Homo sapiens: one gene and its partners. The protein of the gene in region 3 interacts with the protein of the main gene of each other region in a biochemical or structural test. Each region holds a gene or a part of one and is shown on either strand. Other genes may lie near its edges. The genes, in order: IRF1, TOP1 and IRF8.

What was found.
Region 1: the proteins of IRF8 (region 3) and IRF1 form a complex in vitro, tested with the Homo sapiens proteins (one study listed by BioGRID).
Region 2: the proteins of IRF8 (region 3) and TOP1 interact in a test that uses a peptide from one of them, tested with the Homo sapiens proteins (one study listed by BioGRID).

The regions. Positions count from the first base shown.
Region 1 is NC_000005.10:132,488,679-132,492,500, forward strand, and holds the start of IRF1 (interferon regulatory factor 1), read right to left. Parts: upstream 2,096-3,822; 5' UTR 1,867-2,095; intron 806-1,866; 5' UTR 801-805; coding exon 714-800; exon of another isoform or gene 1-713. UniProt on the Homo sapiens protein: Transcriptional regulator which displays a remarkable functional diversity in the regulation of cellular responses.
Region 2 is NC_000020.11:41,115,691-41,119,512, forward strand, and holds part of TOP1 (DNA topoisomerase 1), read left to right. Parts: intron 1-587; coding exon 588-702; intron 703-2,478; coding exon 2,479-2,606; intron 2,607-3,822. UniProt on the Homo sapiens protein: Releases the supercoiling and torsional tension of DNA introduced during the DNA replication and transcription by transiently cleaving and rejoining one strand of the DNA duplex.
Region 3 is NC_000016.10:85,902,162-85,905,761, forward strand, and holds part of IRF8 (interferon regulatory factor 8), read left to right. Parts: intron 1-55; exon of another isoform or gene 56-699; coding exon of another isoform or gene 700-728; intron 729-853; coding exon of another isoform or gene 854-854; coding exon 855-1,028; intron 1,029-3,600. UniProt on the Homo sapiens protein: Transcription factor that specifically binds to the upstream regulatory region of type I interferon (IFN) and IFN-inducible MHC class I genes (the interferon consensus sequence (ICS)). Can both act as a transcriptional activator or repressor.

The DNA of each region.
Region 1 (3,822 bases), on a different chromosome or scaffold from region 3:
TGAGTCAGACCGTTCAAGTTCAAATCTTGGCTTCATCACTTTTTGTGTGATCTTATGATCTACCTCTCAGTGCCTCTGTTTACTTATCTGAAAATGATGACATTAGTAAGATCTAACCCACAGGACTACTGCGAGGATTAAATGACACAATGTAAATAACATACTTAGCAGGTGCCAGGCACACAGGGAGTGTTCAGTAAGCATTAGCTATTATTATGAATACTATCATTGCTACTAAGTCTATAGGGTCTATGTTGCCCCAAGTGCACCAGCTATAGGCTTCTTGGGCCAGAGTGACTGGTGCAAGATTAACTCGTTTGTCCTCTGCTAAGCCAGGCACGTTTCTGCCCAGCAGCATCCACTTCTCAGTCTTCTATTTGTTCGATTGGAGCCCTGCAGAGTGCTGTGTATGTTTGTAAGGGTCTCGCTTAGAGGAGAGCAGAACTCCAGCTCTGCAGATGCTGGAAAGTCTTGCTGCTGGAAACTGGAAGTGCCTTCAGGTGGGTGCCCTACCTCAAGAAGGGAAGAAGGCAGGAGTCATGCAAGTGAGGCCCAGGCTGGGCCGTGCACACTCCCTGCATGCAGGACCCACTGGGAGAAACACCTGCTTGTCCCGTTATCACTTCCCTTTTTGAGCTGCATCTGAAGCTTTGGTCCCTCCAGAAGTACATGGGTTAAAACAGTGGCAGGAAAACCCAAAGAGTTACACTCACTTTATTAATCCAGATGAGCCCCGGGATTTGGTTGGAATTAATCTGCATCTCTAGCCAGGGTCTCATGCGCATCCGAGTGATGGGCATGTTGGCTGTAAAGAGAACACAGAGGCTCCAGTCTGGAATCTGTTGAACAGTACCTGGGCAGTGACCTGCCCCACCCGAGGTCACTTAGTTACCCTCCCCTCACCTCAGCCAGCTGCTAGGTACTACACTCAGTGCGGAGGGGAGCTGCGCTGGAATAAAACTGCTCTCCAAATTTTTTCAGCATCTTAGGCAAAAATGCTTTTGCCCCTTCCTTCAGCCCCTCCCAGCCAGTCTCTGGAGGAGACAGGCATGCAAGTGATGGCTTCAGGATTCATATGCAGGAAAAGAGACAAAATGCACAGATACCCTAATTTCAGAACTTTTCGCTCAAAATTCAAATCCTTTGGGAAGGGAGGGACTTCTTTTGCTTGATGCCAAGAAGAAATTCCCTTGACTTGAGTTGTAACCACTAGCTAGCAAAGGGCTAGCCGTCACCCTGAACAGCCCCCTCCCGCCCCCCTGAATCCATTCTACGCCTTCCTGACAGCCACAGCGCCCACAACGCTAAGACCAGGACGCTAACCCTTCCGGCCCGGTTTCCCCTCCTCTGGAGAAGTGGCCCAAGGAACACCTGTGGCGCCTCTTCCCGCAGTCTCCGTAGGTCACGATTCCCTCCAGCCACCTGGGCAGTAAGCCAGCCCTTGCCACCAGCACAGGGAGCCCAAAACCTGTCGCCTGGGCGCGGAGCTGGGACCGCCGAAAGCCGGGAGCACTGGGCGCCCACGCGTGGGCTGACACTCGGTCCCCGGCACGGCGTGTGGATGCGCGGGACGAACATAGCGGGCCACCTACAGGCCCCTGGCGGCTGCGCGCACGCAGATCTGCGAAAGCTGCCGGGCGCCGGCAGCCTCGTCCGGGTGGGCGGTCCACGCCGCGTCCCGCCCTCCCCGCGCCGCGGCCCGCGGCTCGCAGCTCCTCCGGCGCCCCCCGGAGCCCGCGCGGAGGCCCGGGCAACGCCGCGCGCCGGCGAGTCTCCAGCCTGGAGCTTTCGACCCCCCACTTCCTGGTGCCCCGCGCGCCTTTTATTCGACGCCGCCGGTGCCCCGCGCCTCAAAGGCGTACTCACCTCTGCTGCAGGAGCGATTCGGCGGTCGCGCGCGAGGGTCCCGGCGACGCAGGGGCTGCAGTGAGGGCGCGCGGAGCGCGACTCCGAGTGGAAGAGGGAAGAAGGCAGAGGTTGCCGGGTTCTTAAGGCCGCCGGGCACGGCCGGCGTGGACTGGGCACGGCTCCGGGTGGCCTCGGTTCGGCGGGGCTCGGGCGCACGTCTTGCCTCGACTAAGGAGTGGCGAGCTCTGCCAGGGCAGCGGCGCCACCGAGCAATCCAAACACTTAGCGGGATTCCCCAGCCCTGGCCGGCCCCGCCCCCGGACAGCCGCGCGGGCGCCCATTGGCCGGCTGCGTGCCGTCATTTCGGGGAAATCAGGCTGTTGTAGAGCTAGCGGCGAAGGGGAAGTACAGGGCGGCTGCTCCGCCCCACCCTCTCCGGCCGGGCGCCACCGCCCCGGGGCCACCGCGGGCCCGCCCCGAGCGCTCCCAATCCACCCCTGCTCCGGCTTGCCCGGAGGAGGGCTGCCCGGGACAGCCCAGCGCCCCTGGCCCCAGCCTGTCCTCTCACTCCGCCTTGTCCCAGCCGGCTGGCTCCTGGGGCCATCTTTTCACCCTCCTGGCGGGGCGGGGGCGGGGGTATATCTCCCGAACGCAGGTGAGGGGATCGCCCGGGCACTTGCCGCCCTCTCCAGTGGGAACACTGGGCCGAATCTCCCGACTGGCAGCCTGGCTCCTCAAGCTTGCCAGTGGGATATCAAGAAGGGAGGGTTTCAGTCCTAGCACTACCCCTGTTTTTAGGGGTGACCCCCTCCCTCCAGGTCACTCACCTGCCCTGGGGAAGTGAAGAAGGCAGAAAGCCTACCCTGCCCCGTGTGCTGTCTGGGGCTGCTGGACCAGGGGAAATCCCAACTTGGCCGCTGCTGGCACAGCCCCCAAGGGACGCAGGACCTCTGTTTTTCAACCATAAAATAATAGTAGCCCTACCTTGATGGTTTGCTGTGATGGGAAGAGATTGTAAAGCACTATGCTCCACTCGGGCAACAGACGCTGAGTAGTTTTCAAGGTCGCCGTTGCAGGGTCTAATAGTGACCAGGATGACACCCCACCCCTTTTCGGTCTGCCTCCCTGGGACTCCCCCTGGCTGGCTTTAGGGAACAGAGGAGGAGAAGGGGTTCAGAGAAGCCCAGACGGCTGAGTGAGGGTAGGGGTGGGCTAGCTCTGATCCCTCCTAGCACTCTTGCCTCAGGCCGCCTCCAGAGCCTCCCTGTGGCCCGCGTATGGGAGTTCCGCAATGGAAGCATTGCTGTCATCTCTGAGTCCCCAGGGCTTGGCCCAGAGAGGTTCTGGGCAGCATGGAGGAATTAGCTCAGGGCTGATCAACGCCATGGGGCTAGCCAAAGGGTTGGGGAGCCCAGGTCCCATGCTCCTTGGTAAGGCCCCTACTTAACTCTCGCGCACAACTAGTCCCCGCCCCACGTATAGTCCTAGAGACTTGACTGGGTGTTCATTTTCCATCCAAAACTCTGGCCCAGGAGGCTTCTTCCTTCATCTCCCTAAAGCTCCTGCAGAAGTAAGTTACTCTCCCAGGCGTGTCATTTCCTTCACCCCAGCTCTCCCTCCAGGGCAGCACCCCATTTTGCAGGCTATAAATAGACACACCCATGCAACATTCGACTTGCCAGTCACTCTACCTCCCTCCCGTAGAGGAAATGCATGGGTTAATCCCATTCTGGCGCATTGCAATCTGAGTGCTGTGACCAATGCCAAACCTGGTTCCCAGGATACCAGCAGGAATGGGCAAAACTGTCTACCAGATAGAGGTGGGTCAGGAGCTAGGAGAGGAAAGGAGGTAGGAGAAACTGAGGAAGGAACCTAACTGAGTGTTAAGCAAAGTGGAGGGCAATGACACTCTGGAATGGAAAGGTGGGTTTTGGGGTACTTTAAGTGACAAATGGAAGTGGGGACTTGCTACAG
Region 2 (3,822 bases), on a different chromosome or scaffold from region 3:
TGCTCCTGCAGAGCTTTCCCTTCACTGAATGCCCAGCCACCCCTGCTGGAGACCCAAAACCTGTCCCTGATATCTTAATAGGGAAGGAAAAATTTGCTTTATTGGTTTGTTAAGCCCACCAACCTGGGCCAGGCTTGGTGGCTTACGCCTGTTATCCCAGCACTTTGAGAGGTCAAGTAGGGCAGATCCCTTGAGGTCAGGAGTTTGAGACCAGCCTGGGCAACATGGCAAAACCATTATCCAGGTGTGGTAGTCCACACCTGTAGTCCCAGCTGCTTAGGAGCCTCAGAAGGATTGCATGAGCCCGGGAGGTGGAGGCAGCAGTGAACCGAGATTGTACCACTGCACTCCAGGCTGGGTGTCAGAGTGAGACCCTGTCATACACACACACAAAGATTGAAATACTTCATAGAGAGGCATCATGTAACCCTGTATTCTGGAATTCTTTTCCTCTTTCCCTAACTTCCCACTTGTAGGGCAATAAACTTGACAAGATTGTGACTGCACTGGCATAAATTACTCCTAGGGCTGCCAGAAGGAGCAGGTAGTATAGCTTTGACCTAAATCTGTTGCTTTGTCTCCTCCAGACTGGTATTCTGAATAAGCATCTTCAGGATCTCATGGAGGGCTTGACAGCCAAGGTATTCCGTACATACAATGCCTCCATCACGCTACAGCAGCAGCTAAAAGAACTGACAGCCCGTAAGTATTGCTTGGCCAGATAGGGCCCACACCCCTACTAATGGTATCCGGTGACCTTGCTTATCTAAGGCCTAGAGTCAGTTCTACTTTTTTTCCCTACCATTGTGGTCAGACACTTTTTCCCTTTAGACCTCTAGTAGCGAGATAATGCTTTGTTGTATAAACATAGGATCAATGCTGTTTCCCCCTTCCCACCCCAACTTCAAGATTAATTTCATGGAATGCTGACAGCTTTTCACCTGCTACAAAAATGCCTGCATTTGTGTTTTATACATATATTACTTAAAAGCCCACAGAGTGAAGACAGTGCTGTGATGTTCTGTTAAATTGGAGAGAGTAAAGTTGTCATGGTTACCAGAAAAATACAGGAACAAGTCCTTTCCTTGAGGTTTCTGTCATTTTTTTCCCATAAGAGAGTAGATACTTTCTATAGCTGATTTTTAGAATATTATCACCAAGATCCACGGGCTTTTTTTTTCCTGGAGCCCAGTCACTATTGAATTTCCACTGCCCTCTGTAAATACATCAGATGGCCTTAGAATATGAACCAGAAAAGCCAGAGGTAGGTATGTTGAGGGTCAGTATTTTAAGGTGGTATAAAGAATGCCACACTATACAAATAAAAACAATTTTTTTGGATGGCATTTTTAATTTTTCTTTTTAAATAAGATACTACCAGGCCATGTGCAGTGGCTCACACCTGTAATCCCAACACTTGGGTAGCCGAGGCAGGAGAATCACTTGAACCCAGGAGTTCCAGACCAGCCTGGGCAATGTAGTGAGACCTTGTCTCTACTAAAATTTCTAAAAATTAGGCAGGTGTGGCGGTGTGCACCTGTCATCCCAGCTACCTGGGAGGCTGAGCCCAGGAGTTTAGGGCTGTAATGAGCTACGACCATACCACCGCACTCCAGCTTGGGTGACAGGGTGAGACGCTATCTCTAAAATAATAATAATAACCATAATAATACTACCAACTGTGGCTTAATTTTTTTTTTTTTTTTTTTTTTTTTGAGACGGAGTCTTGCTGTCACCCAGGTTGGAGTGCAGTGGCGCGATCTCGGCTCACTGCAAGCTCCGCCTCCTGGGGTTCACGCCATTCTCCTGCCTCAGCCTCCCGAGTAGCTGGGACTACAGGTGCCCGCCATGTCGCCCGGCTAATTTTTTGTATTTTTAGTAGAGACAGGGTTCACCGTGTTAGCCAGGATGGTCTCGATCTCCTGACCTTGTGATCCGCCCGCCTCGGCCTCCCAAAGTGCTGGGATTACAGGTGTGAGCCACCGCGCCCGGCCAAAATTTTTAAACTTTTAACGTCCCTTCAATTCCTCGTTCTGTTCTGGCTACATTGGGTGGAGAGGTGGGGAGGTAGGAAGTGGCCAGTATAGAACTTATGAATATGGGCAACAAACCATAGTAATATCAGCAGCACCTATGATGAGCATATGGGTGGGGAGGAAGCAAGGAGATGAAGGGTCCCTAGCCAAGTTCCCTGAGTAAAAAGAAAGGTGTAGATTTTATTATATTACCTAGACTCAGAGTTCCTCTTGTGATAGGAATTTACCCAGGCCAAGCTTACATATAAACTTCCTACTATCATTTTCTTAAGACTGTTGACTCAAATTTTGACCTTAGTCCTTGGGGGCAATTTGAATTAATCATCTGAGTAAGATAAGAGCCAGCAAAATCATGGGGACGAGGCACTGGGGGAAGACATACTGTGTGTTCACTTTTGGTGTACAAACTGACCCTCTTGCTACCATGTTCCTTTCTTTACAGCGGATGAGAACATCCCAGCGAAGATCCTTTCTTATAACCGTGCCAATCGAGCTGTTGCAATTCTTTGTAACCATCAGAGGGCACCACCAAAAACTTTTGAGAAGTCTATGATGAACTTGCAAACTAAGGTATCTTGGATAAAATGAAGGGAACTGTGTCTGCTGTGGGCAGATTATCTGCGAATGAGAGGATTCAGGGCTGAGATATCAGCAGGCCAGTGCTGGGTCTGTTGTAGAAGGTCTATGCTAAAGATAAACAAATGGAAATATGATAGTAGTTAATCTCTGATCAAGATACTGAATATCAGAGTATCCATTATTCAAGAAATCTTTATTCTACGCATAGAAGTTCTATACTGGCCACTCCCTATTTTGAAAAACTAACTTTGGTGTACATTCTAATTGCTAATTACTGTCCTTATTGTACATGAGGAAAGTGGATTTAAAGAGAGTCTTCATAATTCCTTGCTACAGCCCAGAAATACAGCCATTTCCAAATTAGATTGTTTCAAATTGAAAAGATGATGAAACAATTATATATTTAAAGTCTTTCAAATCCTAGCATAGCTATTTTTATTTTTACGCATTCCACATGAATCATATTTTTATATAGTTCATCATCAAACATCTGTTGAATACTGGCCGTGTGCCAGACAACTTGCTGCCCTAAAGGGAAAGACTGGTGTGCAAATAGGTGCTATTCCTTGTCCCTGAGCCTCTTTCCTCCTCCTAACTCCGCCTGGTACTGAGCTTTTAAACCATAAGGCACTTAACATTTGATGATGAACATTTTTGTGTTAGCAGTGACTTCATAACTAATTCATCCTAACATGGTGGTCCACAGTGAGAATTTGCAGATATTTCATTATAGAACAGATACACAGGGTTAAAAAGGAAACAAATTATATTGAAATACAGTTATCAAAATACATTTTAAAGTCCGATAATAGATGTGCTTCCTTATTAAGGTCTTGAGGTGGCCTGTAGTAAATTTCAAGGTAGTAATTAATTAATATCAATGATACTTTAAGATTTCTGCAGCAATTCAAATATGAAATGAAGATGTCTAACATCTATTGATGATAAAGTCATAAGTGCTGCTGCTATTACTATGGTTTGTTCCCCATATTCATAACTGAAGAAGAAATACTAAATTTCAGCTAGAAGCTGGGTGCAGTGGCTCACACCTGTAATCTCAGCATTTTGGGAGGTTGAGGTGGGAGAATCACTTGAGCTGAGTAATTCAAGACCAACCTGGGCAACATAGTGAGACCCTGTCTGTATTAAAAATTTAAAAATAAATATAAATAAGTTCCAAAAAGAGGTTATTGAAATTATAGATTTT
Region 3 (3,600 bases):
TTTGCCCTGTTCGGTAGCTGCAGTTTATTTCCTCACTCTTGTCCCTATCTTTCAGTTGGTCGTAGGAGTTGCCCAGGAAGGAAGTTTGGATAATAATAATGACATCTGGCATGTAAGGTCCAGGCCCTGTCTCAGTTGCTTTCCGTGTAGCATCTGAATTCTCTTACAACCAGTACAGGTAGTGTTTTGTTAGCTGCATCTGGGACTGGGTAGCTGATGCCCTGAGTTTAAATGCTGATCCAGCGTCTCCCAGCTGAGCGGTGGCGGGACTTGAATGAGATCGCGGTTCTGTCTCATTCTCAAACTGCTGCTCTTATCACTGTGAAGGAACAGCTATTTAGATGGGCTGGCCTGAGGGCCTCCTCTTTCCCAGACGGCACGGACGCAGTATTCTATCAGGGAATGTGGGGCCAGCTGGGCATCTGGTAGCCCAGTTGGTTCTTCGGATAATGGGCTGCTCAGTGAAGGAACCTGGTGCTGTAAAAGTGATTCCCCCTCTCCTTCCAGTCTTGGGCTAAAACTGGAGCTGTTCACTGTGGTTGTATCTGCCTGAAAGGAAAGGGCAGATGAAAGCTGGAAGGAGCACAGCCAGCACAGTGGGAGGGGCCTGCAGGGGGCTGCTGGTGGCTGCAGGTTTCCCACGGAGCTTTCAGTTTGCACTCAGGGCTGTGAGGTCATGGAGGCCAGCATTGCCTTCTCATGGCAGGTGTCCCGGAGTCCCTGAATCTGTGGGTTTCCCCCAAGCCAGCACCTTTGCTGCAAACCTCTGAGTTTCCTGTTAGCAGTTTTTGGGTTGCTGTGATGAATGAGACAATATCCGTAATATCACAGCGTGTATTTCTGTCTTTCCAAGGATGTGTGACCGGAATGGTGGTCGGCGGCTTCGACAGTGGCTGATCGAGCAGATTGACAGTAGCATGTATCCAGGACTGATTTGGGAGAATGAGGAGAAGAGCATGTTCCGGATCCCTTGGAAACACGCTGGCAAGCAAGATTATAATCAGGAAGTGGATGCCTCCATTTTTAAGGTAAAGAGCCCAGCTCCCTTCCCCACTGTGGGCACAGTGTCTCCTTTCCCTCATGGACTAGTGGAGATGTTGAGTGACATCTTTCTCATTTACTTAAAAATTAATCCAGTTTTTTAAAAGCAAACATTGGTTCAGGAGTGCTGAATGTGTCTCAGACATGTACATGAGCTGATTTCACATCTTTTGAATTACGGAGTCACTTTTGTGGTCGCTTGTATTCTGATGAGGAGATCGAAGGCTCTTTTCTTCTCTTTTCTGCTGCTTCCTTTTCCTGATGAGCCAAGTGGGAGAAAATACTTCGAGACCTTCACGCTAAGACCTTTCCCCACGGGCTTCCATTAGAGGCGATGCATATACCAGGGAAGGTTTCAGTCCTTGTTCTTTCAAAGCTGATACTTCTGCCTGGCATTGTAGGGCCAGCTCAGGAGGGTGAGATGCCATCTGTCATTCCTTTGGGGGCTGGGCCGTGTGGGGGGTTGTGAACCTGCAGCAGATGTCTAAAAATAGTCTCACCTCCCTTGAGAGTAATCGGTTCCCCATGCGTGGAGAGACGTGATGGAGGGTTTGTTCTGTGCCAGGCCTGGCCCACGGCTTGTTTTCTGCTCACATGATCCTGTGTGGTAGATGCTGTTCCCACCCTCATTCTATAGAGGCACTGAGAGGAGAAGTGACTTGTTGAGGTCTCACAGCTCTTGTATGACGGAGCCAGCATTCAGATGCAAGATGGCCCAACTGTGAACCCTTGGTCCTAACTCCAGAATAGCTGATCAACAGAGATTTCTTGCCATTACACCTAGATTCAGACAGAGGAACCAGGAATTAGGGCAGCCCAGCTCTGCAGACCAGCTGGGCTATCGAATCCCTTGTGGGTCATCAGAGTCCTGTGTGGGCATCTCTAAGGCTCCAGATGTCCAGGTTTCACCTCTGGGAGATTCGGAGCCCAAGGTCAAGGTCAAGCTAGACTTCCACGTTTGCCAGTGTGGACACTACACGTAGTCTGAGTCCTAGCCCAGGTTATAAGCCATTGCCATGTGTGCTTATTCTCTTGCATTTGGGGGCCAGAGATGGGGAGGGGAGAGTGAGTGTGGGAGAGGGGTGAAAGGGGCTGAGTTGTTGGGGGCCAGAATCAGACCTGAGACCACAAACAAGGTGTGGAGGGGGTCAAGGCTGTAGGAGCCCATGACAGTGCTGGACTCCCAGCCACAGATGACTGTCCCCTGACACCAGAGAACAAAAATGACAAAAGATCACACCTTAACCCCAGAGTGGACCATAAATAGGTCAAAGGTAGCTTAAGATGCATTTTGGTCCTGCACGTCTCTGCCTGACCGATGTTTGCAGTGGGGCTGTGCGTTTCAGTAATTCTGTTAAATCTGCAATTTGAGGTTGCTGATCTTCTTGAGAATCTGATGCCCATTACTGACCACGCCAAGGAATATGGGGACAAGGGAACGCTTTGCACTCACTTTCGAGGGGTCCCTTGGTGCCCCCACACGTTCCAGATTCTTTCTGATCAAGGACCCCAGGTCAGGGAGCCTCAGCACCAAGAAGTTTTGTGATGCCACTGCCTGCCTCCTCACCCTTAGTGCCATTGTGGATTTCTCTCTTGTTTGATTGCAGATCTTTTTTTTTTTTTTTTTTTTGCCTTTGGCATCATGGTGAACTTCTCTTGGGAAGGACTGCAAATGTAAACAGTGCCAGAGTCCCATTCAGTCGGTTGGGAACTCTGCATTATAGATAACCCCAAAAGCCGGAATTTCTCTGCCTCGCCACTGTTGATGTCTGGGTCTGGGCAATTCTTTGTTGTAAGGGTTCCCTATGCCTTGTGGGATGTTTAGTGGCATCTCTGACCTCTACCCACCAGATGCCAGTAGCATCCCCTCCCCTACTGTCACAATCAAAAATGTCTTGGACATTGCCAAATATCTCCTGGTGGGGCAGAGTCTTCCCCTCCCCATTAAGAACCCTGATAAGAGCTGGCCACTGCCAGGATCAACAGACTTAACCAGAGGTGTTGGGTGCTGAAGGCACAGTTGCAGGTTGGACATCAGTAAAACATCTTTAAGACATGGCAGAGGGTGCTGGACTAGGCTGTGTAGCCCTGACATGTGGCATGCTGACGGAGACGAAGCTTCTCCCTTCACCCCATTCCCTACTTCAACTTGTGCTCGGGGGGTAATGAAATAAAGCCCCAGATTTATACATCTTATGCAATGTTCTTCATGGCCGTTTCAACAGTGTTGAGAAAAATGTGCAAGATTCCCAATGTTTCCGTTGGTTACGCAGTCGCCTGATGTGGCAATCTGAAATGAGTCTACCATCTCAGCAGGAATGGGGCCAGGAGGGAGACGCGGGTGCCCACTGGAGCAGGGAGGCCATCGGGAGGGCCACCAGTGCCGGTGGAGACATGGCGCCAGCAAGAGCCCATCATGTGCTTCCCTGAGCTATGCTTCTTCCCATCCATCCTCTGAGAGGCCTGTCTCTGTGACGTTGGCCGGATAGATCTTTGGCTGTTGGATGAAGTCAACCTCGGTCAGGTAGAGCCATCTTAGGGATTTTCCGGTTATGTAGA